Linked DNA regions of Homo sapiens: regions 1, 2, 4 and 5 are each linked to region 3. Evidence: fine-mapped expression QTL. A gene starts in region 3. Each other region holds a variant in brackets. All regions are shown on one strand. Distances are between the middles of the regions. Region 1 overlaps MBOAT2 (membrane bound glycerophospholipid O-acyltransferase 2). Region 2 overlaps MBOAT2 (membrane bound glycerophospholipid O-acyltransferase 2). Region 3 holds the start of MBOAT2 (membrane bound glycerophospholipid O-acyltransferase 2). Region 4 has its middle 84 kb from the start of MBOAT2. Region 5 has its middle 47 kb from the start of MBOAT2.

Region 1 (5,000 bases), 120 kb after region 3:
TAATTTTGTCCATAGATCTAGAAGTATCTGATGACAATATATATATTCAACTCAGAAGAACAACAAACCCCATTTTGTAACCTGTTCTTTTAAATGGATTTAATGGTAATTATCTCTTTAGAACAGTTTAGATTGTGATTAGTCTTGGCAGCATTTGAGGAGTTCATACACTTTAACTTTTCAAACTAGGTTCCTCTTCCAGTTTGCTTCAGTACATCCTCTGAGACAGTTTGCTGCAGGCCTGCCACATCCCATACCACCTACCCCTTTATTCCCAAGGGATAGATTGAACCCTGTCTAAGCCATATTTTCTCAGCTAATCTTTCAGAGAAGGGCCTTATTATCTGTGTATTGGGGGACCCCAAGACCACTCCCAGTTTGGTGATTCACAGGACTGAGCATGTAGTTGAATTCAAGGCTAACATTTATTACAGTGAAAAGATTCCAAGCAAAGTCAATAAAGTACAAAGGTGCCTGTAATGAAGTCTGGAAGAAACCAGGCACAAGTTTCCAGAAGTCCTCTCCCAGGGGAGTCACAGAGAACGGACTTATTTCCCCCAGCAACAGATTGTGACAACACCTGTGAAGTGTCCATCAGGGAAGCTCTTTAGACGCTCAGCACCCAAAGTTTTTACTGGGGGCTGGTCACATAGGCCCCCGCTGCCTAGCGCACACCAAAATTCCAGGCTCCCAGAAGGAAAGCAGGTGTTCAGAATAAACCACATTGTTGGCACAAATAGGCTAGACATAGGGGACATTTCCTATCGGTGTAGGGGACTGTGGACCAGCCAAGTTCTCATACACCAGCCGTGGGCACACCTCATAAGCAGGCCTTTCTAAGGATAGCATTCTCAGAACTATGTTAACTTGTTTCTGCACAGCCTGGTTCAGGACCACCCCTAGATGAAACCAAATAAATTACCTACAGCTGTGTCTGTTTTTCAACTATCAATCCAGTGGCATCATTCATATTTGCATCTTCAGGAAGCAGGTGTTATTTTATCTTTGGGTATTTCTAGGCATGGTTTTTAAGACATTTCATCACCCTCATATAATAGAGCCTGCTTGCCTTTCTGGCTTTGAATCATGTATATGAGATTGCTGAGGGCTTAGGATGAATGACTAAAATAACCTGCTGGCATGTTTGCTCATGAAGTCTGGCTTGTACTGTGGCCTTTAGGGATAGTGTAGCTGGTTGTCTTGCTGGCAGCTTCATTGATGTCACCTCACAATAGGAATACTTGAACCTAACAGAATGTTTGTACAGGTTGAATATCTCGTATATGAAATACTTGAGAAAAGTGTTTCCGATTTTGGATTTATTCGGGTTTTGGAATATTTGCATACATGTAATGAGATATCTTGGGACCCAAGTCTAAACACAGAATTAATTTGTTTTATATATACCTTATACACATAGACTGAAGGTAATTTATACATTATTTTTAATAATTTTGTGCATAAAACAAAATGTGTGTACATTGAACCATCAGAAACCAAAGGTGCCACTATCGCAGCCACCCATGGAGATAATCAGTGGTTGTTTGGCATCGCCATGATTCCTGACTCCGAATTTACATGAAAATGATAAGCAATCATTTTCTTTTACCTATTCATACATAAGTACTAAACAGTGGAAGATACGCCATTCCATTAATTCAGTGAAAAAATGGTATGTTCAGGGTAACTAAGCAGCAGAGTAGAATCACTGGACTACCCGTATCAGCTGTTAGACACAGCAGCAGTGGCAGGCTTTCAGTCTCCACCTGCAATGTGGTGTCATGCCAGGGCTCAGAAGTCTTGTCATACCCCATTGTTTGCTGCACTGCCTCACTTGGACTTGGTTAGACTTCTAGCTTTAAAAAATGATATCTTGTCTTTAATTGGTTTTTGTTGATTCTTTTGGCCAGTTCCCAAGTTTTGAACTGAGAAGGAAGGCTGGGTTTGTTGTGCGTGTAGACTTTTGACACAAGTTTGTTCTATGCAACTCTATCCTTTAAGCTCTGTGTCTACTTTTCTTGGTTAGTTTACACTTCGAAAGCAGTAATCGCTTCTCTGAGCAACATGGCAGACTGAACTGGTGTAGAGGCCCACCCTATGCCAAACACTTGGAAATGCTGACTAAATATAATGACATAGTTTATGTATGGCAAAGCTTGAAATCACAAAGAAGGCTATTAACATGTCACTTGCCTGGTAAAAGCATGAGGGAAAAAAGGATAAGGAGTTTTTAAAAATTGAATACTTATCCTCATTTCTAAAGATGGCTCTTTTTTTTTTTTTTT[A/TA]AGGAAAAGGTGGACAACATATATCTGATATGGGGGAAGAAAGTAGAATTGTCACAAGTAGGAATTACCCTTTTTTGGGGTTTAAATCCTGATAATGTTTTACCGTTCTCTAATCTTCGATCATCTTTTTTTTTAAGTGTTTTTTTCCTCCTGATTATAAAAAGTAGGTATGTGATCATTGAGGAAAATTTGAAAAATACAAATTGGAAATACGAAGAAAAAATAATCTTCCATGTCCCTCCCCCAACATTTCTCAGAGCCAGACTTTTTTTTTTTTTTTTTTTTTTTTTGGCTGAGTCTTGGCTCACTGAAACCTCCACTTCCCAGATTCAAGTGATTCTCCTGCCTCAGCCTCCTGAGTAGTTGGGATTATAGGCGCCCGCCGCCACACCCAACTAATTTTTTTTTTCTTTTTTTTTTTTTTTAGTAAAGACAAGGTTTCACCATGTTGGCCAGGCTGGTCTCAAACTCCTGGCCTCAGGTGATCCACCCGCCTTGGCCTCCCAAAGTACTGGGATTACAAGCGTGAGCCACTCTGCACCTGGCCCCTTCTTTTTTATTAATATTTCCTTTATCATCTTATGAGGCATGGTTTTCTTTTTACATAATTGTCAAAAGTGGAATGTGTAATATATTCCCATTCCCCAATTGTTGCATATATAGGTTGTTACTTTTTTTCTGCTATTACGTATAAAGTTGTGATGATCCTTGTCATAAATCTTGAATCACACCTTCAGTTATTTCCTTAGGGCTAGAGTTGTAGGAATAGAAGGTAGAAAGATTTCTAAAGTGTTTGCTATACTGGTTTACAGCAAGATGATGTGAGTTCCTCTTGGTACCTCATTTATTTGTTTATCTTCTGTCTCCCTACTAGAATATAAGTGCTATAAAAGCAGGGAGTTTGTTTTTCGTCTGCTCTTTCCTCAGTGCATAGAATAGTTCCTGAGGCATTTTAAGACAGTAATTATTTTCTTCTCATCTTTGTTTTATATACATATAAAATACATAAAATGTGTGTTTTACATAATTTAGATTGTATTATATGAGTAAGAGCCCTTTAAAATTTCTGCATACTTGTAATAGGTGAAAATGGCATCTTGCTCTTTTAATGTACATGTAATGATTTATAATGAAAACATTATTAATCGTGAAATTAACATTTCACGTTAGTTGGCTACATGTATTCTACGATTTGTCTTTTCATGTTTTTAGTTTTGTCTATTTATTTCACTGTTTTTTAATTGCTTTAGCTTTGGTTCTTTGGGGGAATATTACTACTTTACTAATATTAGTTTATTAATTTATTAATATTAATGTTGCTATTTGCTTTTTAATTTCATTCCCCTTTGGTCTTTAAATTGGATTTGAGGTATATATTTTTAAAGCATATGGATCTAGTAAATTGATGTGTAATCTTAAATAATATATCCTCCTCTTTGAAGAGAAACGTAAATAGATGGATGAAGATGATGTATTTGAGTTTGGTTTTCATGCATTGGAGTCATGGAGGAGTAAGGAAATTGCTCTTTGCTTTAGGTTGATCTTCTAGTTTATAGTACTCATGTGTAGTCATTTAAGTCATCCCATAATAGAAAAATTGTAATGCCCCTTTTCGAAAAGTCATAGCATTTACGATTAAGGATAATAACATTATAATTTTTAAAGTGCCAGCATTTGGGAATTCTTTAATTATAACTCCCCTTAGAGTGGAGTCAGATACCCAACCATGTGTTATTTTATAGAGACTTTTCACATGATCGAGGCTGTGTTGCCATGAGAAGGAAAGGAACAGTCATTATATCAAAATTAGGAATATAATAGCATGAATTTCAAATGAGGAAAGTAATGAAAGTGTGCATGGGCAAAAATGCCATTTTGGGGAGAAATCTTAATTGATGAGTACCTATTTTTGTTTCTCAGGGATGTTTCGGAAGGATGAAGAACTGACTTCCTCACAGAGGGATTTAGCTGTAAGGTACGTGCCTTTGCATCCTATTCTGCCATGCTTCCTGCGCCCCTGCCTAGGACCCACGTTCCTTCTGTGGCTGAGGCTGACTAGTCCTTCTAGAGGTACTTACTTCTGAAAATCAAGCCTCACTCTCTCCATGCACTTCCCTCCTGCCAAAGCCTGCTGGGCAGGCCTGGGCATCCCTTCTAGGGCTCCTGTAGCACCCTGCCTCTGCGATTGTACATTTGCGCCTCCTATGGGCCACGAGGTTAGCTGCTAAAGTTTTCATCCCTATGAGACTCTGAGTTCCTTGAAGACAGGAGGATAGTATTGTCTTCATGTCTGCCATGTAGTAATTACTGGTAATAATAGCAGCTACCATTTACAGGCCAATAACTTGATGGCAGGTACTGGGCTAAGATATAATACATTAATATAGCACATCGATGCCATATTTTGAAATAATAAAGAACCAGTCAGATAATTCTCATTATTATTTGAGGAATTCATTCTGGGATAAGCTTCTACTTCATTTATTAAAGGCACTCTGATGACTAATCTAAGGAATGGCTTAATTTCACAGTGTCTATCTCAACTAATATAATTTGAGATGGAATACTCATTATACTTAAAGAAAAATTTCCCACAGATTACGTTGTTTCCAAATCTAGAATGAATAAGTGCATAGCTGCTAGAAGAATGAGATTGTTTGTGATATTATTTAGAACTACACTAAGTATTCATCTTTCATCCCAAGTAGCATGTCT
Region 2 (6,492 bases), 150 kb after region 3:
GCGTATCCCAAGGCACTGAAGAGGTGGAAAAATAATCGTGTCAATCTGGATGATAGAGAGAAATTAACTTTTCCAAATGAATGTCTTGCCTTAAACCCTCTATTTCCTAAAATATTGTTCCTAAATGGTATTTTCAAGTGTAATATTGTGAGAACGCTACTGCAGTAGTTGATGTTGTGTGCTGTAAAGGATTTTAGGAGGAATTTGAAACAGGATATTTAAGAGTGTGGATATTTTTAAAATGCAATAAACATCTCAGTATTTGAAGGGTTTTCTTAAAGTATGTCAAATGACTACAATCCATAGTGAAACTGTAAACAGTAATGGACGCCAAATTATAGGTAGCTGATTTTGCTGGAGAGTTTAATTACCTTGTGCAGTCAAAGAGCGCTTCCAGAAGGAATCTCTTAAAACATAATGAGAGGTTTGGTAATGTGATATTTTAAGCTTATTCTTTTTCTTAAAAGAGAGAGGTGACGAAGGAAGGCAGGAATGAAGAAGCACTGCGTGGCCTCCGGTGGAATGCACGGGGCACAGCCGCGACTCTGCAGGCAGCTTCCCCCCCATGCCAGGGCTCTGCGCCGTCATGTGAGACTTAAAAAAAAAGTTGAATGACTTCGTGATACTTTGGACTTCTAAATTAAATTTATCAGGCATAAATTATGTAGAATTAGAGGCTTTGAAAATAATACTGGTAGGTTGCTCAAAGGTTTTGAAAGAGAAATCGCTAGGTAGGTTACTATCTGGCTAATCCATTTCTTATCCTTGACAATTTAATTCATATTTGGGAAACTTTTAGGGAAATGAAAAATAAAAGTCACTGAGTCTGGGTGACATTTTTTAAGAATAATATAAATTCAGTTTCAAACTCTTCTCACATTAAAATTTTGCTGTGAACTCTTACTAAAATGAGTTTTAGGTTCTGTAAGTGGAAAAATGTGCTTTTATTTTATGGGCCATTTTTACCACAACTAATCTTGCCTTGGATTACTAAGCATCTCCTGCGATCCCACAGAGGACTGTGGTGGCCACAGGAGCTGAAAGCAGAAGAGTGGGATTTGATGCCAGGCAGTGGAGTGGCCTCAGCCCCAGATTGTACCTCCTGCCCTGTAGGAGGGGAGGGGGCAAAGCCTTCTGACTTCACCTTTGTTTGACCTATGTATGGAACTTACTTTTACTTTTTGCCTTAAATTTTTAATGAAATGCAAATTTTCTGTGATGGGGTTCTCTCTCTCTTTTTTTCGGGGGGTGGAGTCACTAATAAATTTGCAAATGAAGTTAAAGACAAGGCAACCATCTGGCTTATGCTATATAATACTTCATTTAAAGAAGAAAGGAAAAGCAAATGCACTTGCAGCTTTTGAGGTCTCAGCAAAAATGGGCATGTGTCTTTTTTGAAGTTTAGAAATATCCTAATCTATTTTTATTTATCTAAAAGTAAGTGTTTTCCGGCTGATAAGGCTAACCCTACCCAGGAAAGGATTGATAACTAAATAAATTTCCTCTGTTTTCCCATGCATTGAAATTATGTTGGCTGAGCATGGTGGCTCACACCTGTAATCCTAGCACTTTGGGAGGCCGAGGTGGGCGGATCACTTGAGGTCAGGAGTTGGAGACCAGCCTGGCCAACGTGGTGAATCCCCGTCTCTACTGAAAACACAAAAATTAGACGGGCATGGTGGCGCACACCTGTAATCCCAGCTACTTGGGAGGCTGAGGCAGGAGAATTGCTTGAACCTGGGAGGTGGAGGTTGCAGTGAGCTAAAATTGTGCCACTGCACTCCAGCCTGGGTGACAGAGGAAGACTCCGTCTCACAAAAAAAAAAAAAGAAAAAAGAAATTATGCCAGCTGTTTAATGTGAGAGAATAGAAAGAATGTTCATGGAATGTACCTGCCCTGTAAAATGTTTGATCATTTTCATTAATGTTGCAGAGAATCCGACTGCTATTAAGAGAAAGTGAACAAATTAAGAATTTAAAAGACAGGTTCAGGCATGTCATAAGTGAAAACAAGAAGGCTTAATACAAACTTGTTGGGTTTTGTTCGTGTGTGTGTGTGTGTGTGTGTGTGTGTTTTTTTTTGGTTCAGCCTATCTAGCCACCTACAAATAATCACATTTCTGTTACCTGAATTTATTTCTCAGCCTGTAAACCTTAGTCACTGTTACCTGTTTCTTGCTCAGTGAATATGAT[C/T]TTGGCACTGTCATCTAGAAAGCAAGATATTTGATTGGTTTTCTGGTTCCTTCGAAGATAATAATTCCATATCCAGTTTGACTGATTTTCATACCCCTGAATCAACTAGTTATTTTCATGAAATGGTTTTTGGATATCTCTCCTCTAGTTTGGAGAAGTAATAATCACAAAGATTAATATTTTGCTTCTAGTACTTACAGTAGAAGAATTTTAAACTGGTACGTCTACTCCTGTTAAATAGAAAGGGGATTCGTTGTATTATGTGCTTGCTTTTTTTTAATCAATAGAATAAGATTCAATGCATATTTATGTTTTATATTTTCCACTATTCAGGTATCATGAAATCACTCTAGAGATGATCAATCAACATCATATTTATACTTTTGGTTAATTATATACTACTCAGGGAAAAAATGAACAAAAATAACTACTCATCCTTCAATTTCATTTTCTTGAAACAGTAAGAGTATAATTTGGTATGCCTCAGCTGTCACCATTTTATAAGTGGCTCATTCTGTTCTTAAAGTAAGTATTTTTATTGGAACTCAGGGTAATTGGGGGAATTTATTTAGCTTCTAAAATATCCGGCAGGATAGAGAAGATTTATTTGGCTTCAAAAATGTCTGGTGACCACTTCTCTTATTAGCCACTACTGCCCATTTGCTTCAAAAATATATTTATTGGTCTCCACCATGTGTGACACACACAGGATTTCCAAACATACCACTTTTGAGAAAAATGTGCAGTAAAAAGGAGGTTTCTAGAAAGTGACAGTAACTCACATTTAAGCACTAGCTGACCTAGGAGGAGACCTGGATCTTCATTCTGGTTCTGCCTTTCATGAGACTTAAGACTTGGAGGAGCCACCTGTCCTGTAGACCCCAAGTTCCTCAGCCATAAGCAAACGGGTTAATCCTAAGAGTTCAGGACCAGTTGGGTGTCGTGAACGGAGCCATTAGCAAGGTCTGTAGGATTCAAGGACTTGGGCACATTCACAGTCCACACTATTGTCATGGTCATTGACTTACTACTTGAGCTCAAAGCCCTGACATTTCAAAAGGTTGTCATGATAACAGTGAAACCTCTGAATCCCTTAAATCAGAAGGCATGGCAACATACTTTTTCTACTGGCAATAGCTCTTACAATGAGTGTTTCATAATGAAATAGTCTCTGCTGAAGAAAACATGTTTTCCTTTTGCTCTCTCTGCTTTGTTGGTTTCTGTGCTGTGTGGAATTGGAGAAGATATATGCTCTGAAATATTTTATACAGATTACTGACTACTGGACAGGGTTTACCACTATATAACATCTCAAAGTTATTCAAGGATATTTAAAGCATATTTAGTTTAGTTACACCTTATTTTAAACCGCAGAAAACAATAGCTTTAAAATTTTTGCCATTAAAATAATTATAAATTTATACTTTTACTCAAGGACTAGATCACAGTTTTAGGACAAAAATCTCTCCTATTTAAAGTTCATACCTTGTAAGTATTTAGTTTGTATATTCATGAACAAATCTGGACATTTATACTTTTTTTGTTTCCTTATCAACTGTTCACAATTATTAGTTAATTGGTCTTAACAGTTCTACATTATAATTGAAAGAAAAATTACTTGAGAAAATAATTGTTTCAGAATAGTGCCTACTATATCTGTGTCAGCTAAAAATTTGTCCAGAGTTTTAGATATAAGCTAGTATTTTGTGGAGTTTTATCCAGGCGTTAATAGTTCTTCCTGGCTGAAATTTAATATAGGTGCAGAATCCTAAATAACACTGTGAGATGTAATCTTAACTGCCCTCAATACCTTATAAAACTGCTGCATTTAACCCAGTGTGCATTTAATGAGTGGCTGGTCGTTGATACACTCATCTTAGATGCTGAAATTTCTGTTTTCTCCAGCCCTTGTAAAAGTGGGTTTCTTGATGAACGCGTGCTCCCAATGCTGAAGCAAAAGATTTGCATTTAAGGAGAGAAATACACCCTGAAATTTGAGTTTGAAAGATTAGAACATAGAGGGTCTCTACAGTGTTTTTCTGCAACACCAAGTAGTCAAATCTATTTATAGAAACTCTGATTACAACAGAAATTTTAAAATGAAATTTTCCACATCGGTATTTTGTAGGAAAGCTCTTATAATCAATGCTTAAGCTGCTTTTTGAGGCTTTTCTTGTACAGAGGTTGCAGCCAATTACATTTTAATTGGTAGGCTGCTGAATAATGTTTTTGTATGTTTTAAAATAATATTTATTTTAATAGGTTTTTTAACATTATGCAAATCCCAATAAAGAACTGACACGTTCCATAGGCCATTGACTGGGAAATTTTGTGAAACACAGCCTAAATACACAGTTTTTACACCAACTAATTTGTCTTGCCTTTAAAACTGATTATAACTCTTCTTTAAGTACAACTTTTATAAAGAAAAAATACAACACTAAGACTGTATGTTCTGTAAATTATAGTGTGATGACCCATGCAGAACCGCTGTCTGAAGCTTACTCAGCGATTCATAGCCATCTCCAGCCATGTTTTATCAAATCACACACTAAAAATAAATGGAAATGCTACAGTGAAAAACCAAAAGTTACAGAGCAACATAAGTAAAATGACTAGGCAGTTTCTTAGTAACATGTTTGAAATGGGAAAGGTGACTGACTGCCTTTCACCAGAGTCTTAGCTGTTTCACGTTCACTATTTTAGGTTAATTTTCTTGGGAAATCAATTTGAATATTCCCCCCTGTCCTTTTGCATTAAAGGACGAAAATATATGTTGAGAGTTTGACAGACTTTTTAAATATGCCTCTTTCCCAATTTTATGTATTTTTGGTTCTGCGCACACAGATTTATCAATGAAGTACATTTGCCTCTGGCTTTATCACAAGGAAAAAGGAATCAAACATTGAACACAAATGTGTTCCAAACCAGTCTTGTCCATCTTGTCACTTTTATGTGACTGCTCCTCTGAACCAGAAGGGGCACGATAGAAGGCCATAGGAATGAAAGTAAATCATTCAGGTGAAGTGAGAAATTCTTCCATATACAGAGTGAAAATGTGTGATTTCATTCCTGCCTTCCTTTAAACGTTGTCTTGATCTCTGCCTAGTAGTAGTTGAGCCCTCAGTCGCCCAAACATGAGGAGAGACCCAACTCCAGCAGCCAGAATTTAGTATTTACATTTGCCTTCCCAAGTTGAGAATAGAATGTGGTGTTCTGTGCTTTCTGTTTTTATTATTCCAAAATATTTTTTTAAAGAAGTGTTATTTTTCAACAGATTCATAAATTAGTTCCTGATGTACGGTAAATTAAAACTCCCACTGTGTCAGTCAAACTGAGATGTGCTCATTTCATAACCACTCATTTCTAGTCTGTCAGAGCTGCACTGGTGGCTTATTGCTGGTTTTTAAAGGTGTTTTTAACTTACATGTAACATGTTTAGGACATGTTTTTTTTTTCTAATTTGTGTGTCTTTACAACTGATTAAACAGTAGTTTAAAAATATGCGTGTGTGTGTTTGCTAATATCTTAGGCTTTTAATTCCACTTATAGAACAATACTGGCCCTGTTACGAGAGTTAATGGTCATTTTTATTGAAGGATTCTTTAGTAATATGGTGATAATATTCTGAAGAGTCATTGACTCTTTAACTGCTTAAAGATTATTTAAAAGAAACTATTGTCATAAGCACTTTGGAAGGTAATTAAAACAACCTTAACTTAGTGTATAGTATCTGTATTCTCTCCTACAACAGACTTGTCAAGTGAAGAAGATACTGACTTTGCTCAGCTGAAAGGGAACGCCCACCTCCCAGGCCCTGCAGTTAGCTGGTTCGCAGCACTCCTGTGGGAGGACGGGTGTGGCTACTGGGAAGCAGAGCGCTGGGACTCTGCTAGATTTCTGTGTCATCACAGACCTAGAAGAACTTCAGAGCGTGCCTGGGGGCTCTTCCTTTATGCCGTTGTGAACAATTGTAGGGAAACGTCTTCTGTTTTACGCTTGTATAGAGATGCTAGGCTGAGCAAACTCACAGGTCCATTCCTAGTGCTTTCTCTCTGGAAGACCTTAGAATTTCATGCCAGATTTAAGTTACCCCATTTTGAGGTTCAAGACCATGTTGAAACTGGGCCATGACCAAAAGCAGTACAGACTCAGAATCCCTCCTACCCACGTGCTGGGTAAGAAGAATAAGTCATTACCCTTGTCCTCAAGGTGTTGGTGAATAGTGACCATGTGACACCATTAGTGCTTTATTGGAGGCATTCACAAGGGGCCTTGGCAATAGGAGGAGGAGTGAGG
Region 3 (6,396 bases):
TAACAATGGGAAACTTAAGGCACAGAGAAGCTAAGCCAATTTCTAAAGTTCATAGCTATCTGGTGGAAAAGTTAGGGTTAAAATTCAGGTCTTTTAACTTCAAGCTAAGCTTCTTTCTTACAGACATATTCCTTTGATTTTAACATTAAAAAAAGAAACTTCCTTGATACTTTTCTTGTAACATGTGAATTTGTGAATACGACTGTTTTCTTCTTTTGATTACAGGCATCATTTATCCTTTACGTCACCCCACATAGCTCCTTGAACATAGTAAGTGGTCAATAAATGTTTTAACACAAGAATTGCTCTTTATAGGATGGATGTTACCCAAGGTAGGGCAGTGAGGCATTATATACAATTAGTTTAATTCTTTTCTCTTTTGTCTCCACTGAAGAGCTTCTGGTATAATTAGCAGATACTGGTCAGGCTAATTGTATGGCCTGCACACAGTTTATGCTACCATCAATGAGTTATCAGCTTAAAATGCCAGCTTCAATTCTTCATTAAAAACATGAAGAGGTAGTATATTTAATACGAAACAAATGGTTTCCATTTTCAGAATTATACTAAATTTCTTGGATTAATATTATGTGTCAGCTTGACTGGGCTAAAAGGTGCCCAGATAGAGCTATTGAAACATTATTTCTCAATGTGTATTTGAGCATGTTTCCTGCAGAGATCAGCATTCGAATTGGTACATTGAGTAAAGATTTTCTCACCCACGTACCCCGGCGTCATCACATCTGCTGAGGGCCCAAATAGAACAAAAAGGTGGAGGAAGGGTGAATTCACTCTGAACAGGGACATCCATCATCTCCTGCCCTCGGATATCATTGCTCCTGGTTCTCAGGCTTTTGGACATAAACTGAACTACACTGTTGGCTCCTGTGTTTCTCAGGCCTTTGGGCTTGGACTGGACCTACACTACTGGCTTTCCTCGGCCTTTAGCTTACAGATGGCAGATGATCGTGGGACTTCTCAGCCTTCATAATCTCAACCCAATCTCTCATAATAAACTTCTGTCTATCTATTTCCATATCTATTTATTATCTATCTATCTATCTATCTATCTATCTATCTATCTATCTATTCTATCTAGAGTTCTCCAGAGAAGCAAAACCATATCTATCTCCTATTGGTTGTGTTTCTCTGGAGAACTCTAATATAATCTTTCTTAAGTTTTATCATGCACCAAGCACTGTTCTGAGCTCTTCATATAAGTACACCTTTATAACCTCATAAACTATGGAGTTGGTGCCATTATTACGCTCATTTTTACATGAGGAAATGGAGACTTAGAAAGGTTAAATAACTTGCCCAATATCTTGCTGCTAATAAATGGAAGAGACTAGGTGTGTTTGATTCCAAAATCTAAGCTATTATTACTACTATACTATATTTTACCTATAGTTTTGTAACTCTGACACAGCAAAATTTTCCCAGATGGCTAAAATCTTCCCTATTCTCTCTCTCTCTCTCTCTCTCTCTATATATATATATAATTTATTTCTTTATATTTTTTGAGACAAAGTCTCACTCTGTCACCCAGGCTGGAGTGCAGTGGTGTGATCACGGCTCACTGCAACCTCCTCCTTCTGGGTTCAAGCAATTCTCCAGCCTCAGCCTCCTGAGTAGCTGGGACTACAGGTGCCTGCCACCATGCCCGGCTAATTTTTTTTGTATTTTTAGTAGAGACGGGGTTTCACCATGTTGGCTGGTCTGGAACTCCTGATCTCAAATGATCCACCAAACTTGGCCTCCCAGAAGTGCTGGGATTACAGGCGTGAGCCACCATGCCTGGCCTATTTATTTTTTTGAGACAGGGTCTCACTCTGTCATCCAGGCTGGGGTGCAGTGGTGCGATCACAGCTCACTGCTGGGATTACAGGCATGAGCCACAGCGCTCAACCATTCTAGATATTAAATAATTTCATGTAGTTACCCCAAATACAGATTATGTTCTGTCATGTCTGACTAAAATAAAAATTTAGCTTAAGGAAACTCCTTTCTGCAGACATTATTTGTTCTAGCTCTGAGATTGTATCTCCATGCTGCTTACTTTAGGTTGCAATATGTTCCCAACACCCACCTTTCAAGTTTTTAAAATGGCATTTCAATTTTTTCTTCAGTTTGTATGCTCAGCCACCTGTGCGCTTCCTCTACTTTTCTAAAGTGAAGAAAAGGAAAAAAAAATGGTTTCTTTCTAATATAATATTAATAGGTCTGGGTTTTTGGATTAATATACTGTAATAAGCAGCTCTCTAATTGATTACAAATCCCACTGGAACACTCCCCTGGGGGAATGAAGGTCCTGTTCTTTTTACTCTTCCTTTTATCCTCTATTCCATTTCAGCTGAGAATCCACCAAACTAGGATTGAGTCGACCAGTGAAAGGATTCTAGGCAAGACGGGATTGCACTGATGAGTTCCACTGCCTCCTTTTCAGAGAGACAAACGTAAGCCCACAGACTGATTACTAAGGCAGGTGTATTTTTATCTGTGCTGCCTTCTTATTCAAGACTCTAAGCTAGTCATCAACCCAATGGTATAACTGATAGCTGACGGGAGTTTCTGGAATGGGTGTTAAGTGTGAGAGAGATGAAGGCCTAGTGATAAGGTCGGCTCTAAATGTAGATTTACTTGGATTCCAATCTACTTACCAGCTGTGTGCCCCTGGGCAAGTTACCTCTTCTGTGACTCAACTTCCTTGAAGGAGGGTGTGTAAAAGTGTCTATTTCACACGGTTATTGTGAGGATTAAATACCAAAAGTATTAAAGCTGTGGTTAAACTCTCAGTAAACATTAGTTATTTCTACCAAAGTTAAACTGCCAAATCCTTGAGTCTTGATTTGTCCTCATAACTGCTGTGGCATTTCTCCTCTTTTAAAGTCTTCTGAACAGAAGTTGACGTTTGCATTTTAAAGGAACTCAAATGGCTTACTTTTACGAAGTTGGGGGGATTATATATACACGTGACCCGCCAGGGTATGTAAACCTGGCGGACTTCAACAGTCTGGGGGTGCCTGCGCTCAAGGGGTGAAGGGATGCTTAGAAACTTTCTCAGGAAGAAGGTGGGGCCTTCAACGAGGGCGGCTGGCTACAAAGAACTAAACTTTCACACAGCAAAGGGGAGCCGGTCTCCCTGCGCCCGCGGGCGTCGAACCCAGGCCCAGCTCTCACCACCCAAAGGCCCGGGTGCGGCTGCAGGGTGACGAAAGCGTCAGACCCCGGGGCTGCTCTCAGCTTTGGGCTTTCACCCGGCACTCTCCCAGACAAAGGGGCTTCTCAGCCAGGTCGCTGTTTTGGTTTGTCGTCCTCCCAGCCCCCACCTTCGTCCCCAACTTCCCCTGGCGCTGGCTCGGCGGCGTCCCTCACATCGTCCCTCCGGCCGCCACCCCGGGCCCCTTTGTTGTCTGCCGTCTCTCCCAGAGAGGGGTGGGGGGCCGCGACATTCCAGGGAGGAGAAACCGAGGAGTGAGGGGCAAAGACGCTCTTCCATGCTCTCACCCGAGGAGCGCGCCCCACGACGCTGGCCAGCCGTTCTCCGGCGACGGCCCGGGCCGCGCCTCGGCGCCCTCGCCCGGGTCCTCGGCACGGGGGAGGGGCGTGGCGCGGCCGGCGCTCTCTGATTGGCTGCGGGCGTCAGGGCGTCGCGCCGCGATTGGGTCGCGCAGCTGTCTGGAGCGAGAGCGCGCGAGGTGGGGAGGGGGCCGCTGGAAGCTGCTGGAAGTCGGGGGCGGGGGATGCGGCTGGGGCGCCGGGGCGGGGACGACGGGGGCGACGGCAGGACGGGCCGCGCCTGTGCAGGGCGGTCGGGGGCGGCGGGCGCGGGAGGAGGTGGCGGCGGAGGGGGAGGTGCGAGCCGGGCACCGCCCCCGGCCCCTCCCCGGCCTTCCCCGCGCAGAGCTCCGACCGCGGGCGGCCCAGGGGCGGGCGCGCCGCTGCATCCCCATCCTCGTCGTCGCCCGGCACAGCGCGAGCGGGCGAGCGGCGCGGGCGGCCGGAGCGCCGAGGCCCGGCCATGGCCACCACCAGCACCACGGGCTCCACCCTGCTGCAGCCCCTCAGCAACGCCGTGCAGCTGCCCATCGACCAGGTACCCCGAGGCGCCCTGGCGCCGGGCGTCGCGCCCTCGCCGCCCCTCCCCGCCGCGGTGCCACCCGACCGGGGGCCCGGGAGGAGGGTGGGGGCTGGGGCCGGGCGCCCGGTGCCCCCCTACCCGCCGCTCCCTGGAAGGGAGGGGGCAACAAGCCGGTTATTGTCCCAGAGCCCCCTCCCTCCTGGGTGCGCCCCCAGCCCGCCATCCCCGGGCCGAGCGGGAGGTGGGCCGGGCGTTGTTGCCGGCGACAGCCCCCGGGGAGGGTGGTCGTATGGGCGTGCGGGTGTGCATGCGGTCCCTGCCCTTCGCGGCAGCGGCGCTCGGATCCGGTGGTCGGGTCCCGGAGCAGCCCCCGGTGCGCATGGACCGGGTTGTGGAAAGGGTGCGGAAGGCTGCGCTTTGGGGAGCCTGGCGTGGTGCTGCCTGCCCCGCGCGCGCCTCTGAGCGACCCCCGGAGAGGCTGATGCATGGGTCTGGGTGTGCTGGGTGCCTTAGAGACGGCGTCGATGGGTGCTAGGGGCCCGGAGAGGCTTAAGCGCTACTGCACTTTGGGGACAGTTTGCGTTGGATTGTGGCTTAAGAGAGACAGAGGCAACAGTTTGTGGGAAGGCAGACAGGTTATGAAGAAAAGTCGGAGTTAATCCCAGGATTCTTGCTGACAAAGTGGCAACCTTGTAGATTGATGCAGCCACTTTACCTCCTTGCCCAGCCCTCAGAAAAGCTCTTGACAGTGTCTAGGGAAGGGTGGTATTTAAATGAGGCCAATCGAGTTTGATGGTTTAAAGGGCCTAACGATTACTGAGAAATAAACAGCATTGTGATGGGAAAAGCAGCGCCATTTTTACTGAGAAAAGAAAGTTTGGAAGTATTTTGTTGTGACAGTGAGATTTAGGGAAGTTGTTAATGAGGCGGGGGCTGGGGGGCGGGGGTGTATAGTTAGGTGATTGCTCTAGCCCCAGGCTAAAGGTAGTTAACTTTGGAAATTTTGCTTACAGTTATTTCAAGTGTACTTAACCTGGAAGTGTTTGGACTTCACACGGGATACTGGTTCACTGTCTTGAACTTGAAGGTGCTGCTGTCATTTAGTCTTCAGGGATTTCACTTCAATACGGGATTCCTTCTTGTCCAGACGGCTTTCCATAGCAGCAAGCTGGAAACCTGACATTAGGATACTAGCTGCTTTGTGCTTTACTGTTTTAAATAAAATCGCCTTAAGTATGTCGAAGGAGTGTTAAACAATTGTGGCTTCTGTTGAAATTCCACATCGCGGTCATAACTTCTGGTTAATAGTAAAGTACCTATCCCCCACCTGTCTTGAACAAGAGTTCTAATGGGTGTCTTGCTAATAAAGTATGGTAGTGAAATTAATCGTGTATTCGAAGAAAATATTCTTCTCTCTTTATTAATAAATTGACCAGAATTTAGGGTTTTTCATCCTCCCGGCCCCGCGGAGGATTCTTGCTGACATTTCCACACTGGTGTGCAGTGTATGACCTTTTAGCATATCACACTCCTGCCTTAAATAGGCTACTTCCAGTATATCAGCAAATGCAGGGTGGGTGTCTGTTGAAAAGTTCTTTGCTGATGAGGAGCAAGGGAGATAGGTTTATATATTTACATTTCTTTCAGAGAGATGGGCACATGTTCACGTTCCCTTTTTCTCTCCCCCATCTTTCTTTCCCTCCCGCTCCATGTCTGCCATAGCCCTACCCGTCCCTGCTATGCTGAAATATTTTCTTGACTATGCTAATAATACCTATTCATTTATATAATGCTTATAACTTTTTAAAGTGATTTGCTATTAATGAACGCATTTAAGCATCCAGAGAAAGTTCTTTTCAGTACTGAAGTAAGCAGGAGAATCAAGGGAAAGTGACAGGACTTAAAATTTTTGACATCCTTCTTTATTAGCTAAAGGTCTTAAGTTGGTACCTTGGGACTACTCTAAATTTGTACAGCCATGTGTAGCCCTGACTTTGTATAGCACAGTCGTGCACTGCATAGTGACATTTTGGTCATCAGACCACATGTCTGCTGGTGGTCTCGTAAGATTATGATGGAGCTGAACAATTCCTATTGCCTAGTAAAGCTGTAGTCATTGTCATGTCGTAGCACCACGCATTACTCATGTGTTTGTGGTGATGCCAGTGTAAACAAACCTAATGTGCTGCCAGTCCAAACCTACTGTGCTGCCAGTCCTATAAAAGTCTAGCACATTGTGTATACTACACAATTAGGTACAGTACGTAATATTTGATAATCCTAAGTGCATCACTGGTTTATGTATTTACTATACT
Region 4 (6,492 bases), 83 kb before region 3:
TTTGGAAGTTTTGATGAAATGTATAAATTCCTAGAAAAGTAAAAGTTACCAGAATGGACACAAGAATAAATAGAAAATCTTAATAATTAAATACAGCATTTAAAAACCTTCCCATGGCCAGGCGCAGTGGCTCACGCCTATAATCCCAGCACTTTGGGAGGCTGAGGCAGGTGGATCACGAGGTCAGGAGTTCGAAACCAGCCTGGCCAATGTGGAGAAGCCCCATCTCAACTAAAAATACAAAAATTAGCTCGGTGTGGTGGTGCGCACCTGTAGTCCCAGCTACTCAGGAGGCTGAGGCAGAAGAATCACTTGAACCCAGGAGGCAAAGGTTGCAGTGAGCCAAGATCGTGCCACTGCACTCCAGCCTGGGTGACAGAGCGAGACTCCATCTCAAAAAAATAAAATAAAATAAAAAAATAAAAACCTTCCCATAAAGAATAATCCAGATCCAGATGGCTTCTTAAGTGAATGCTACTAAACATTTATGAAAGAAATATCATCAATTTTACATAACTCTTAGAAAACAGAGAAAAGATTCCTCAAGATTTCTATGACACCAGAAGAACCTGATTCCCAAATTTGATAAAAACATTACAAGAAAGGAAAATTAGAGACCCATTTAATTCAAAGAGATAAATGCAAAGATCCTAAGTAAAATATTAGCAAACCAAAATAAAGTATTATGTAAAAAACAGAATACATCACAACCAAATTGGATTTATTCCAGGAAAGCAAAGTTGATTCATCATTGAATAGTTCTATTTTCTTTTTCTTTTGTTTTTTGAGGCAGAGTCTCACTCTGTTGCCTAGGCTGCAGTGCAGTGGTGAGGCCTTGGCTCACTGCAACCTCTGTCGCCCGGGTTTAAGCAATTCTCCTGCCTCAGCCTCTCAAGTAGCTGGGATTACAGGCGCCTGCCACCCCGCCCGGCTAATTTTTGTGTTTTGAGTAGAGACAGGGTTTCACCATCTTGGCCAGGCTGGTCTTGAACTTCAGACCACGTGATCCACCTGCCTTGGCCTCTCAAAGTGCCGGGATTACAGGTGGGAGTCACAGCGCCCAGCATCATTGAATAATTCTTTACCACATTAATGGAATAAAGAAGAAAAACACAGTTTTCTCAATAAATGTGGGAACAGCATGTGATAAAATGCAACATGCATTAATAAAACAATTCTTAGCACTGGTAATAGAAGGGAACTTCCTTAATCCAATAAAAATGTATTTATTTTTAAAATCCACAGCACGTGTATAAAGGTGAATTTTTGTAAATGTTTCTTCTAAGAACAGAATAAGACAGAGACAGATAAACTATTAGATTTAATAAGTGAATTTAGGCTGGGAGCAGTGGCTCACACCTGTAATCCCAGCACTTCGGGAGGCCAAAGCGGGTGGATCACCTGAGGTCAGGAGTTTGAGACCAGCCTGGGCAACATGGTGAAACCCCATCTGTACTAAAAATACAAAAATAAGCCAGATTTGGTGGTGGGCATCTGTAATCCCAGCTACTCAGGAGGCTGAGACATGAGAATTGCTTGAACCCAGGAGGCAGAGGTTGCAGTGAGCCGAGATTGCGCCACTGCACTCCAGCCTGGGTGACAGAGCGAGACTCCATCTAAAAAAAAAAAAAGTGAATTTAGCAAAGTTGTTGGAAACAGCCAATTAACAAAAATCAGTTGTATAAAACTACAATTATGAATTACATTTTAAAAGATAAAACTTAAACATCTTACCTAACAAATAATTTTGTTAGAAATAAATCTAACAAACATCTTCAAGAATTCTATGCTGAAAACGACAAAACATTATTAAAAATATAAAAGAAAGCCTGCAGGGTGGCTCACGCCTGTAATCCCAGCACTTTGGGAGGCCAAAGCGGGCAGATCACCTGAGGTCGGGAATTCGAGACCAGACTGGCCAACATGGGGAAACCCTCTCTCTACTGAAAATACAAAAATTAGCTGGGCGTGGTGGTGAACCCCTGTAATCCTAGCTACTCAGGAGGCTGAGGCACGAGAATCTCTTGAACCCAAGAGGTAGAGGTTGCAGTGAACTGAGATATTGCCACTGCACTCCAGCCTGGGCAACAGAGTAAGACTCTGTCTCTAAGTAAATAAATAATAAAAATATAAAAGAAGACCTAAATAAATGGAGAGATGTTTGTGGACTAAAAGTTCAATTATCTCAAGATGTCAGTTCTCAAATTGATCTATTCCAATGCAATGCAATCTCAATAAAAATCCAGTAGGTATTTTGCAAAAATGCAAAGTTGATTCTAAAAGTTATATGATAATGCAAAAGGTCTCAAATAACCAAGCAATTTTTGAAAAAGAACAAAATTGAAAGGATTTCTCAACTGGATGCCAAGCCTTCGGAAAGACTTCAAGGTGGTATTGACACAGGAGAGGCAAATAGATGATCAGAACAAAACAGAAAGTCCACAAGACCCACACATACAGGAACACTTGATTGGTGTCAAAAGCACCACAGCAGAGCAGCGGGAGACAGGATGGCTTTTCAACAAACGGTGATGGGTAAAATACAATGAAACCTGGTCACTACCTTACACCACACATAAGAATCCATTCCATAAGTAGAAGAAGCCAGACACAAAAGGCCACATTTTGTATGATTCTCATTTGCATGAAAGCTTAAAAATTGGCGAAACCAAGATGTGGTGTTAGAAGCCAGGATAATGGTTACCTTTGGGAAGGAGTGATGGGTAGTTGTGGAAAGGGCCGTGAGCACAGCTTCTGGGGTTACATGAGTGGTTACACGAGTGTATTCACTTTGTGACAACTCACCAAACTGTACATTGAAAGTATGCACATTTTTCTCTATACATGTTATATTTTAATTTAAAGTTAAAATTTTTTGACCTTGCCACTTACAGCTTCATAATGGTGGAGAAGTTATATAATTTTCCTAGGCCTCCTTTTTATTTTTTATTTTTTTGTAGAATGGGGATTATAATAATCTCCACTTTGTAGGTTGTGAGAATAAATATGTTTCATAAATAAGCACTTTGTTCAGTGACTGGCCCATACTGGAGGCTTGATAAATGTTCCATGTTATTAGCTGCTAAGGTCATTTAGATAGTGGTGGAACTGGGATTAAAATTAATCCAGACAAATATGTTTTCTATCACATATCCT[C/A]TGGCACAGGGCTGCTTATTAGCTGGGCTTGAATGGAATGCTGGATTTAAATAGCATTTGCTATGAGTTATCATAAATCGTCTTCATTCTCAATTTTATATTTTGCAAAATGTCAAGTGTATTAATTCCTCCCTCTTCTCAATTCCTATGAGTATACTTTGGAATCTCAAGTATTTTAGCGTATCTCTTCCCACTAAAGATGAAAGTACATTCTAAATAGTCCAATCACCATGTTAGAAAACTGTTTAGAATTGTTGGCTCCATCAGGGCCCCAAGAGGGAGAAGAACATCCGGCTGACCTGGGGGCTGTGGCCAGGGTTGCCCAGCCACTAATCACCTTTCAAATGACTGTGTTTATAGAAGAGCATTGTAGAGCGTGGCTCCCTTGAATCAGATTGTAACCAAGACCTCATTAAGCGGCACAGAGAAAAAAAAAGTTAAAGGACACATTAGTTTCCAAAAGGAATGTTTGGAAAAGTACTCGAAGATGAAGCAGCTGAAAAAAGAACTGTGTGTCTTATTAATTAGCACATCAACAGACTTCTGTCCCGTGGATTTGATCACAGTGAATGCACTTTTGGATGTGAATCAGCAGTTCTTGAATCTTAATGAAACCAGTCGGCAAGAGTTAATCACAGCTGGTTCCTGAGCTTATGTGTAATTAAAATATCCAGCCAAAAGAGAATGTCTTAAAAAAAAGGATAGTTTATCACTTTATCATTTTTAAGAGTGTGAGTTAAGTATTTTGTGATATAAAATTTTGAAGGCAGACTGCAAACATCTAAGTACCATATGATGGCACCAACGTGGAAGTGTTTATACACGGCAAAGAATGGAAGACATATACAGTGGGGAAAATCGTTATGGTATTAGGATAGTGAGGTTAGGACTGCTGACTAAAATTTTACTTTAATGCTATTGTGTTGTCTGTATTTATTTACTTATTTTCTTGAGACAGGATCTCTCTCTGTCACCCAGGCTGGAATGCAGTGGCGCAATCTCGGCTCACTGGAACCTCTGCCTCCTGGGCTCAAGTGATTCCCCGACCTCAGCCTCCCAAGTATCTGGGACCACAGGCACATGCTACCATGCCCGGCTAATTTTTGTATTTCTGTAGGAACAGTGTTTCACCATGTTGCCCAGGCTGGTGTCAAACTCCTGGGCTCAAGTGATCTGTGCCCCCTTGGCCTCCTAAAGTTCTGGGATTACAGGCATGAACCACAGTGCTTGGCCAAATGTTATTGTGTGTTTTGTTTTACTTTTTAAAATAAAACAATCTTTAGAGGGGCCCTGGTTTCTTGTTCGTCTTTGATGTACATCTTACTGTCCCATACTGATAGTAAAAGTCACTGAAAAAGCACTTCCTCCAGCATGATTTGTTGATTAGATAACACAGCTAACATCTATGCAGACATTGTAGTTAAAATCTAAGGTCAGTGAATTGAAAAGTGAATCTTCTGGATAAATTATTCACAGTTTTATTTATATTAATTTCTACTCCACCTCCATTGTAAGAGGATATAAAGACTGCAGAATTTTCTAATATGGATAGTTAATTCTTTAGGTATTAGCAGTAACCATGTGTGCCCGAATTTAAGTATATCTACAGTTGTAAAGTCTACTTTATTTAATGTGGAATTGTTATTTTTACCTAAAATAAGTAAGGCTTTTAAACATGGATATACTGTAGCATGGCCAGAAATAGAACTAAAACTAGATTCCCTTGTACAGAACTTAACAGTTAAGAAGAAAAAGAGGGGGTGGAAAGGCATAGGTCTCCTTCCAAAAGCATCGTTATCCAGAGGAAGGAGCTTTCTAATTGCACCTGACATCATAAGGGACAAAACATTTGAACTCCTGGGTAGTTTCTAACAAAATACTGAGATTACTTTTGTTTTTCTCTCATATCCTAGTTTGAGTTCGTTCTGAGTTTTTACTCAACATATTTAATGAGATATAGATGCCATGTCACTGTGGGTAGCTCTTACATATTAGAAGTTCATTCATTCCCTTAGCTGGCTAACAAATCCCAGGGAGCTAAATTGCATAATGCAATGCCTAGCATTTCATTGCTGACATCCACTTAGCCTGAAATCTCTTGTTGGTCATGAGGAGGAACAGAATATAGTCACAGCCATGGTCAGTAAACTTCTGTGTATTTTGTCTCGGCCACTGTTGGATTGCTTGAGCCCAGGAGTTTGAGACCAGCCTGGGCAACATAGTGAAACCCCATCTCTACAAAAAAGCAAATTTAAAAAAGCTGTCCTGGTGCAGTAGCTCAGGCTTGTAGTCCCAGATACTTGGGAGGTTGAGGTGGGTGGATTGCTTGGGCCTGGGAGGTAGAGGCTGCAGTGAGTCACGATCGTGCCACTGCCCTCCAGCCTGGGCAACAGAGCGAGAGCCTGTCTCAAAAAAAAAAAAAAAAAAAAAGATTCCATTCATCTGAACTGGACCCATCTAGATCTCAAACATATTTTTGCATGGCCCTGTTTATAAACAACTTGATTAAAGATGTATTACAAGTTTCATGGGCCATATAACTTTTAATGATTTATCAACAAAGATTTAGAATCATTGGTAGAAAAGAGAGGCTTGTCTTTGTGAATCCTGCAGTTAGGGCACGTGAGGAGTCTTCGTAATGTCTGGCCACCATCTCTTCCTGCTCAGGTCCAGGAGCCATCGTGTCAAGTTCTTTATTGTCAGATGTGCCTTGGCTGGGTAGTTTCACATTTCTCATTATGAGGAAAAAGTAGCAACGCTGTTATTGCTCTCAATGCTGTGGCTTTTTGGGACCTGTTAATATTGAAACTATAGATCAACTTGCCTCTGGAGTTCCCTGATGTCATTTGTTTCACGCTAGGTGCATCATTACTAGGACACCGCATCCTCCATCATGGCCCTGGTGAATATTGGCTTCCAATGTCTCCCTAAAGGCTGTCACCATAATTCGTTTATGATGACCACAAATGCAAGTCTCGCCCAGAGTGTGCGGGAAAATGTTTTCTGGTCATCTTAAACTTACTGTCTAAGGTTTTGCAGCCATGTCTTCTCTTGATTACCTTATGCCATGATTACCGCATTCCTAGAATATGGTCTCTTTCAGTGCTGACCTCACCGTTTCCTTTCACAAACCATCACTAGTGGGGAGGCTAGGCGAGGGGCAAAGAGTGATCCTATTCACCCAGAGAAGGTCCATTCCTCATCAGGCACACTTCCCTACCACATGGCATAGCTTAAGACCAACCTATGAAAACAAATGTCACCACATGATCAGAGGCAACAGAGTACATCATTCCTAAAATGGAGGCAAAAGAGGACATTGATCAGAAGGGCTGT
Region 5 (6,492 bases), 47 kb before region 3:
CAAACATGCCTTTGGCACTGATCAAGGTACCCCAAGGAATGAGGACTGAGACAAAAGACTGTTGAATTAGGATGATCTCAATTTTTCTTTTACTGCACTCAAGGCTGTTTAATAAATATTGTTGCAACCAACCTCTTTTTCTGCATCATTTCTTTTGTTCTTCTCTTTATTTTTCCATACATTTTAAAGGAGGGTTATTCTAAGAGTTTAATTCAATATAACAACTATTTATAAGGGAATTATTATGTGAAAGATATTCCAAGTTCTCTAAAAAAATTTCTTTTCCCTTTTAAGCTAGCTTGAGTTTATTATATGTAGCCAAATAATCCTAACATGCATGCTCATTTCTTGTAAAACCAAGTTTAGACTCCTAAGAACTGTTCAGAGCTCTATCTAACCCAGCCTTTATTCACTTTCTGAACCTTATTCCTTATTGCTTCTTAATTAAAACCTTTCTCTGACCAGCCTGCTGGCCTCTGTATTTGTAAACCCACCCGGCTCATTCCCCTACCAACCACAGCTTTGCGCATTTCAGTCTTACCTTCACTGTTTGTTCCCTTTTTAAACCCCAGCTGTCTTTCAAAACCCACTTATTTCAAAACTCTCCTTCACAGTGATTACTCTTCTTTGGATTATCTGTGGCCTTTCCTGTTTGTCCAATTTATTTGGCATTTGTCCTACACATTCATGAATCATTATTGCTTTTTTTCTGTGTATGAATAAAATTATAAGATCCATGGGCTCAGAAACCACATGTTTTGCTTGTGTTCTAAAGGAGAAGCAGAAACACTTTCTCATTCACTACTGCTGCCAGGTCACTTGCAAAAATTACACCCAAATAGGAGATTCCCCTTTTGCTCTGAGAAGTGAAGCTAACCCTTACACTCATTCACTAAATCCATGTTTATTGAGCACATTGCAAGTGCCAGGTACTGGCAACACGGATACACAAAGGGATCCGCCCTTGCAGGCCTCATAGCTGACTGCGGCACAAACAGGTCACATGGAGCCTTGTGCAGAGCCCAGAGTGTTTGGAACTTGGTCTTCAGGTGACCGATGGTGAGAAAGTACTGAGCTGACAGAGAGGGAGAGCATTCAAGAGTCCAGTCTTCAGTTGCACGTGTTCTGTGAAACCAGCAAAGCCCCACACCTGTTGATACTTTAGAGGGGATAGATACACAGCTTGCTCCAGAATATGCTTTCTTCTAGAATTTGAGTTCAGCTGAGATACAGACACAGAACCCAGCCTGATGGAGATAACAACTTGAATGCTGCAAAAAACCAGAATGAGGGTGTGACCTAGGTTTGTGGCAAGAGGAAATGCTATCATTCCTCTGAAATAAACTTACCCCACCAGTGGGAGGCCTCACCTACAGACAACATCAGCCCAACTAAGCTCACTGCATACCAGGAAGCAAACCGGGCTCTAAGGAAAATCAGCTTCTAACCCAGGTGAGAACTTTCAGAGAAACAGAGAAGATACTTCATAGTTCCCACACTCTGCTTCTGGAACCCCCGATGCATAATGTCATCTCCATCTTTCTCTCTGGGACTCTGGGGAGTCACAGAAGCAATGTCTGTCAACATGCTGCCATCTGGGAAGGCATCTGGAGGGGTGGGGAGTGAGAGAAAGCTCTGAAGGGCAATGTCATAGGAAATGCAAAATGACTTGGGTTTAAATGCCACTTCTGTCATTTATTCACTATAAAACTCTGTAAATAATTTCACTGAATGTCATTTTCCTCTTCTGTAAAATGGGAATTTTACTTCATAAGGTTTTCATTAAAAATGTACCTGGTATATTACAGATCTCAAAAAGTGCTTCTAAAATTTTTATTTTAAAGGTGACTTTTGGGGCCAGGTGCAGTGGCTTACGTCTGTAATCCCAGCATTTTGGGAGGCTGAGACGGGTGGATTGCTTGAGTCGGGGAGTTTGAGACCAGCCTGGGTAACCAGGTGAAACCCCGTCTCTACAAAAAACACAGAAATTAGCTGAGTGTGGTGGTGCACGCCTGTGGTCCCAGGTACTTGGGAGGCTGAGGCGGGAGGATCGCCTGAGCCTGGGCAGTCGAAGCTCCAGTGAGCCGTAATGGTGACACAGAGCAAGATCCTGTCTCAAAAAAAGGATGCTTTTTGGGTTTCTAACTTACCTCCTAATTAAGTAAATAATTTGTTGCCTAGTAATAAAAAGATAAAAGCAATAATTTGCTACAAAGGGGACATTGTTGATACTATGTCTATATATTCAAGCTTAGGGGAAAGAGTGAAAACACATCTAATTTGGTTTAATTTCTCCTCAGCACCCGATAAAATGTAAGTATTTGGGAGTTGCTGGGATGCGGACAGTTGATAGCAAATACATTTAAAATTATAGAAGTGCGGCTGGGCGCCGTGGCTCCCTGTAATCCCAGCACTTTGGGAGGCTGAGGTGGGTGGATCATGAGGTCAGGAGTTCAAGACCAGCCTGGCCAAGATGGTGAAACCCCATCTCTACTAAAAATACAAGAATTAGCCAGGCATGGTGGTGGGCACCTGTAATCCCAGCTACTCGGGAGGCTGAGGCAGAGAATTGCTTGAACCCGGGAGGCAGAAGTTGCAGTGAGCTGAGATTGCGCCACTGCACTTCAGCCTAGGCGGCAGAGTGAGACTCCATCACAAAAAATAAATAAATAAATAAATAAATAAATAAATAAATAAATACAGAAGTGCACAGATCTTATGGATTTGTCCAAATTTCATCCTGTAATACTGAATATTTTAGAAATTTCAGACGTGTTGACTTAATGTGGCATCAGAGGGATGGGTAGTCCTTATGGTGTGCAATCATCACCTGGAATGCCACACTGTCCTTCTCCTACATTGAACTCCAGGGTATGATTATTCCATGTGTGCCTACCCTCCTGTGTTAATTACTGTGATGGATTGTTTCACTCTCTGAGATGACATTCCTTTAATTTTTTTTCCAACAGAAAAACATAAAACTACTCAGTAGGAACAAGGAGCATTCTGTTAACAGAATATTTAATAATTGCTTTTGATATTTAACTCGATACTTATAATACCATTTAAATAAGCAGTCTCTGAATAAAACTACCGGTTTAAATTCAGGTAAATAAGGTAGCACGTAAAGCAATAAGATAATTTCGAAACCAGGAAAAAAGAAAATTGGTGATTTGCAATAGCAAAGACATGGAATCAACCCACGTGGCCATCAGTGATGGACTGAATAAATAAAGTGTGGTACATATACACCATGAAATACTACGCAGTCATAAAAAAGATCAAAATCACGTCCTTTGCAGCACCATGGATGCAAGCTGGAGGCGATTATCCTAAGCAAACTAATGCAGAAACAGAAAACCAAATACCACATGTTCTCACTTAGAAGTGGGAGCTAAACCTTGGGTGCACATGGACATAAAGATGGGATCCATGGACACTGGGGAATGTAAGAGGGGTGGGAGAGGAGGCAGGGGCTTCAAAACTACTGGTTGGGTACTATATTCACTACCTGGGTGACAAGTTCAATCGTGGTCCAAACCTCAGCATCACACAACATACCCATGTAACAAACCTGCATGTTTACTCCCTGAATCTAAAGTAAAAGTTAATAAAATAAAATAAAACTGGTGCTCTGTTGATTGAGAAATTAACAGCATCTTTATTTTATTCAACAAGATCTATTGACCGTCATGTGACCTCATGTAACCTCAAAGGAATCACACTCAAAAGCAGGAAACACACATACAAATAGGGACTT[T/C]CCAGAGAGAGACAGAGTCCCTGAATCACATCCATTTTTTGAGGTTCCTGATGTACCACAAATAAATAAATTAATTAAATAGTTATAGTTGGGAAACATGATTATAAAAATGGTAGTAGACTTTAAATGTTTGCACTTAACAACAGAAGTGGCGTGATGGAAAACTTCTTTTAATCCTGTCAGTGCATCTCGTAGCTATTTATATAACCTAGTCAGAGATAACATCCAACAGCTGACTCGGAGGCCCTTTGTAAATAGGCCCTGATATGCACAGATAATGCAAGGGCTCAGCCCTGGTCTTAGCGGCCACTTTTGCAAGCAAGATCTACAAGATTTCCGCTGACTGGAGTACTTTGGGTCTGTGTTTACGTGGGCCAAAAGAAACGAAGAGATGAGATGAATATCTGGCTAATTCAGGTAACATCCTCCTCCCCGAACATTACTTTTAAAGAAAAAGCGAGAGGCTTGAGCTGGAATGAGGAGAGATGGATGTAGAATAAGACAACTGTGCACCGGCCTACATGAACAGCTGTGGCCCCAACCATATCACACCTCATGCCTCTGCCTAGCTGCTTTTGTGATGCAGGCCCCCAAAGCCACACTGTGTCCCCATCCCACAGGTTGGACTCTCACCCACACATCTCTTCCCCCTAGAGTTTGGGACACCAGAGAGCCAGGCTGCCTGGCAGCTGGAGTCACTAGGATCCCTAGTCTACGCGGGAAGAGAGACAACTCTGGCTGTGGTCAACTCGATTTGAATCCTGTCTCCAGAACATGTGGCCTTCGTTGCTTCATCTCTACATTTCAGTGTCCTAAACTGTAAAATGGGGATAACCGCAATTGTAGCCACCTTACCAAGTTGAGGCGATGAACCCTAGATTGTGTAGCTCCTCGTACGTGTTTTCTCAAAGGTGGTGGTGTGTGGTGAGACACCCACAACTAGTTTGAGCACTCACTGATGATTCTTGCCTAAATCAATTATTGGTATGATAGTTGCAAAATGGCAACCAAGTTCAGCATTCTCTCTAAACTTATTAATTATACTAGAAGATCTTTCCATTCTTCCATTCTCTTGTGTACTTATTTTTGTTTAATCAGTGTGGATTAACGGATTCTTATTTTACCCAACGGGTTATAATCCATTATTATTATTATTGATCTTGACGCTCACGTTTCCCCAGACTTTGATCAGTGAGAGCTTCTGCAAGCTGTTCCCCATGTCCTTTGAATGTATCCTTTTTTTTTTGAGTACTTTTTTATTTGTTATGGCATAACAAAGCATTCCAGGCTCATAGTACATTTTCCCTGCCCCACTCTTATAATTGGCTTTTTTTTTTTTTTTTTTTTGGAGAAGTGCTGCTTCTTTTTACTGGGAAACAGTATATAGAATCTGACATCTGGGTGCTAGGCATGTTTATTGCTTTTGGGTATCATTGTTTCTAGGCCGTTTCAGCAGAAAAAACTAGAGAATACACACAAATATTCACAAATGTAATTATATCTATACAGTATTTAGAAACCATGAATTCCAATTCAACACCGCAAGGCTCTTCTTAGCCTTTTACCATTATGTATTAATATTTTCCTTCTCAACGTCATCAATACGTGTACTCATTTGTTCACTCCTACATACATAGCAAGTTGTTTAGAATTGCTAGCCCACAACACTGCTAAAATAAGCCCTACTTAAATACAGTTCAAGATTTGCTTGCAATAGGCTTTTTCCTTGTAGTCGAAATACTGTGTTAAAAAGTTCCTCAGGGTGAGTTTATTTTTTAAAAACAAAGTTATTTGTGTTAGTTCCCCTCCCTTTTACTGTAGTCACGCTCTCTATTTTAAATACCATTGAGTTCATTTGTTTCTGTTTGTGTTACATCTTAGGACTTCCCCTCCTCCATCTTATTGACATAGTTTAATTTAATTTTATTTAATTTTGGTGTATGTAAACATTAATGTGGTTCTGGAAGTCCATACTATACAAAGAGATATTCTTTTCACAAAAATAAGCTAATATATATATATATATATATATATATATATATATATATATGTCTAACATCTATATCTGTATGTCTTTCATACACAAAAGATACCAATATATGTACTCCTTTGTTCTTTTATTATTATTATTATTTTGCTTAACAACATGCCGTAGAAATGATTCCATATCAGTTCAGATATATTCCTTATTTTTTATAGCTGCATAGTGCTCCATTGTGTGGATATACCATACAGAGTTTTAATGGATTTTCACATCTCACTTTATCTTTGCAATGCCCTGTGAGGGAGAATGTATGTTATTATCCCCATTTCATAGTTGAGAAAATAGATTCAGAGAGGTAACTGATGAGTACTGACAGGGTGGGAGCTGAGACTCAGTCTTGAGTTTGAGGCCAGCCCTCCTCTGACTGCTGTGCTGTTAGTCTCGAGATCTCTCATCCCTCTATGGCAGTGGTCCCCAACCGTTTTGGCACCAGGGACCGATTTCATGGAAGATAATTTTTCCAGGGGCTGCGGGATGGTTGCGGGATGAAACTGTTCTGCCTCATATCGGGGCATTAGTTAGATTCTTATAAGGAACGCGCAACCCAGGTCCCTCACATGCACAGTTCACAGTAGGGTATGTGCTCTTATGAGACTCTAAGGCTGCCACTGATCTGACAGGAGACGGAGCTCAGGCAGTAATGCTCGCTGGCCCGCGCTGTGTGGCCTCTTGCTGTGTGGCCTGGTTC

What was found.
Region 1: its variant is fine-mapped to the expression of MBOAT2 in whole blood (INTERVAL, PIP above 0.99).
Region 2: its variant is fine-mapped to the expression of MBOAT2 in whole blood (TOPMed, PIP 0.99).
Region 4: its variant is fine-mapped to the expression of MBOAT2 in visceral fat (GTEx, PIP above 0.99).
Region 5: its variant is fine-mapped to the expression of MBOAT2 in T cells (TOPMed, PIP above 0.99).

Annotation. Positions count from the first base shown.
Region 1 is chr2:8,881,771-8,886,770 of GRCh38, reverse strand. It overlaps MBOAT2 (membrane bound glycerophospholipid O-acyltransferase 2), which reads left to right. Exons shown (of 13, transcript NM_138799.4): 6 at 4,206-4,260. Among named protein-coding and RNA genes, the nearest start is that of KIDINS220, 47 kb to the right of the region's middle. The variant A/TA (reference allele first, on the strand shown) is at 2,286.
Region 2 is chr2:8,851,895-8,858,386 of GRCh38, reverse strand. It overlaps MBOAT2 (membrane bound glycerophospholipid O-acyltransferase 2), which reads left to right. Exons shown (of 13, transcript NM_138799.4): 13 at 1-5,697. Among named protein-coding and RNA genes, the nearest start is that of KIDINS220, 18 kb to the right of the region's middle. RefSeq lists a silencer at 3,034-3,328 and an enhancer at 2,918-3,469. The variant C/T (reference allele first, on the strand shown) is at 2,194.
Region 3 is chr2:9,001,240-9,007,635 of GRCh38, reverse strand. It overlaps MBOAT2 (membrane bound glycerophospholipid O-acyltransferase 2), which reads left to right and starts at 3,952. Exons shown (of 13, transcript NM_138799.4): 1 at 3,952-4,096. The coding sequence starts at 4,022. It overlaps LOC124907728 (a long non-coding RNA gene), which reads right to left and starts at 3,560. Exons shown (of 2, transcript XR_007086199.1): 1 at 3,508-3,560; 2 at 1-2,167. RefSeq lists silencers at 3,579-4,038, 4,582-4,876 and an enhancer at 4,641-5,295.
Region 4 is chr2:9,084,298-9,090,789 of GRCh38, reverse strand. No RefSeq gene overlaps it. Among named protein-coding and RNA genes, the nearest start is that of MBOAT2, 84 kb to the right of the region's middle. The variant C/A (reference allele first, on the strand shown) is at 3,157.
Region 5 is chr2:9,047,838-9,054,329 of GRCh38, reverse strand. No RefSeq gene overlaps it. Among named protein-coding and RNA genes, the nearest start is that of MBOAT2, 47 kb to the right of the region's middle. The variant T/C (reference allele first, on the strand shown) is at 3,761.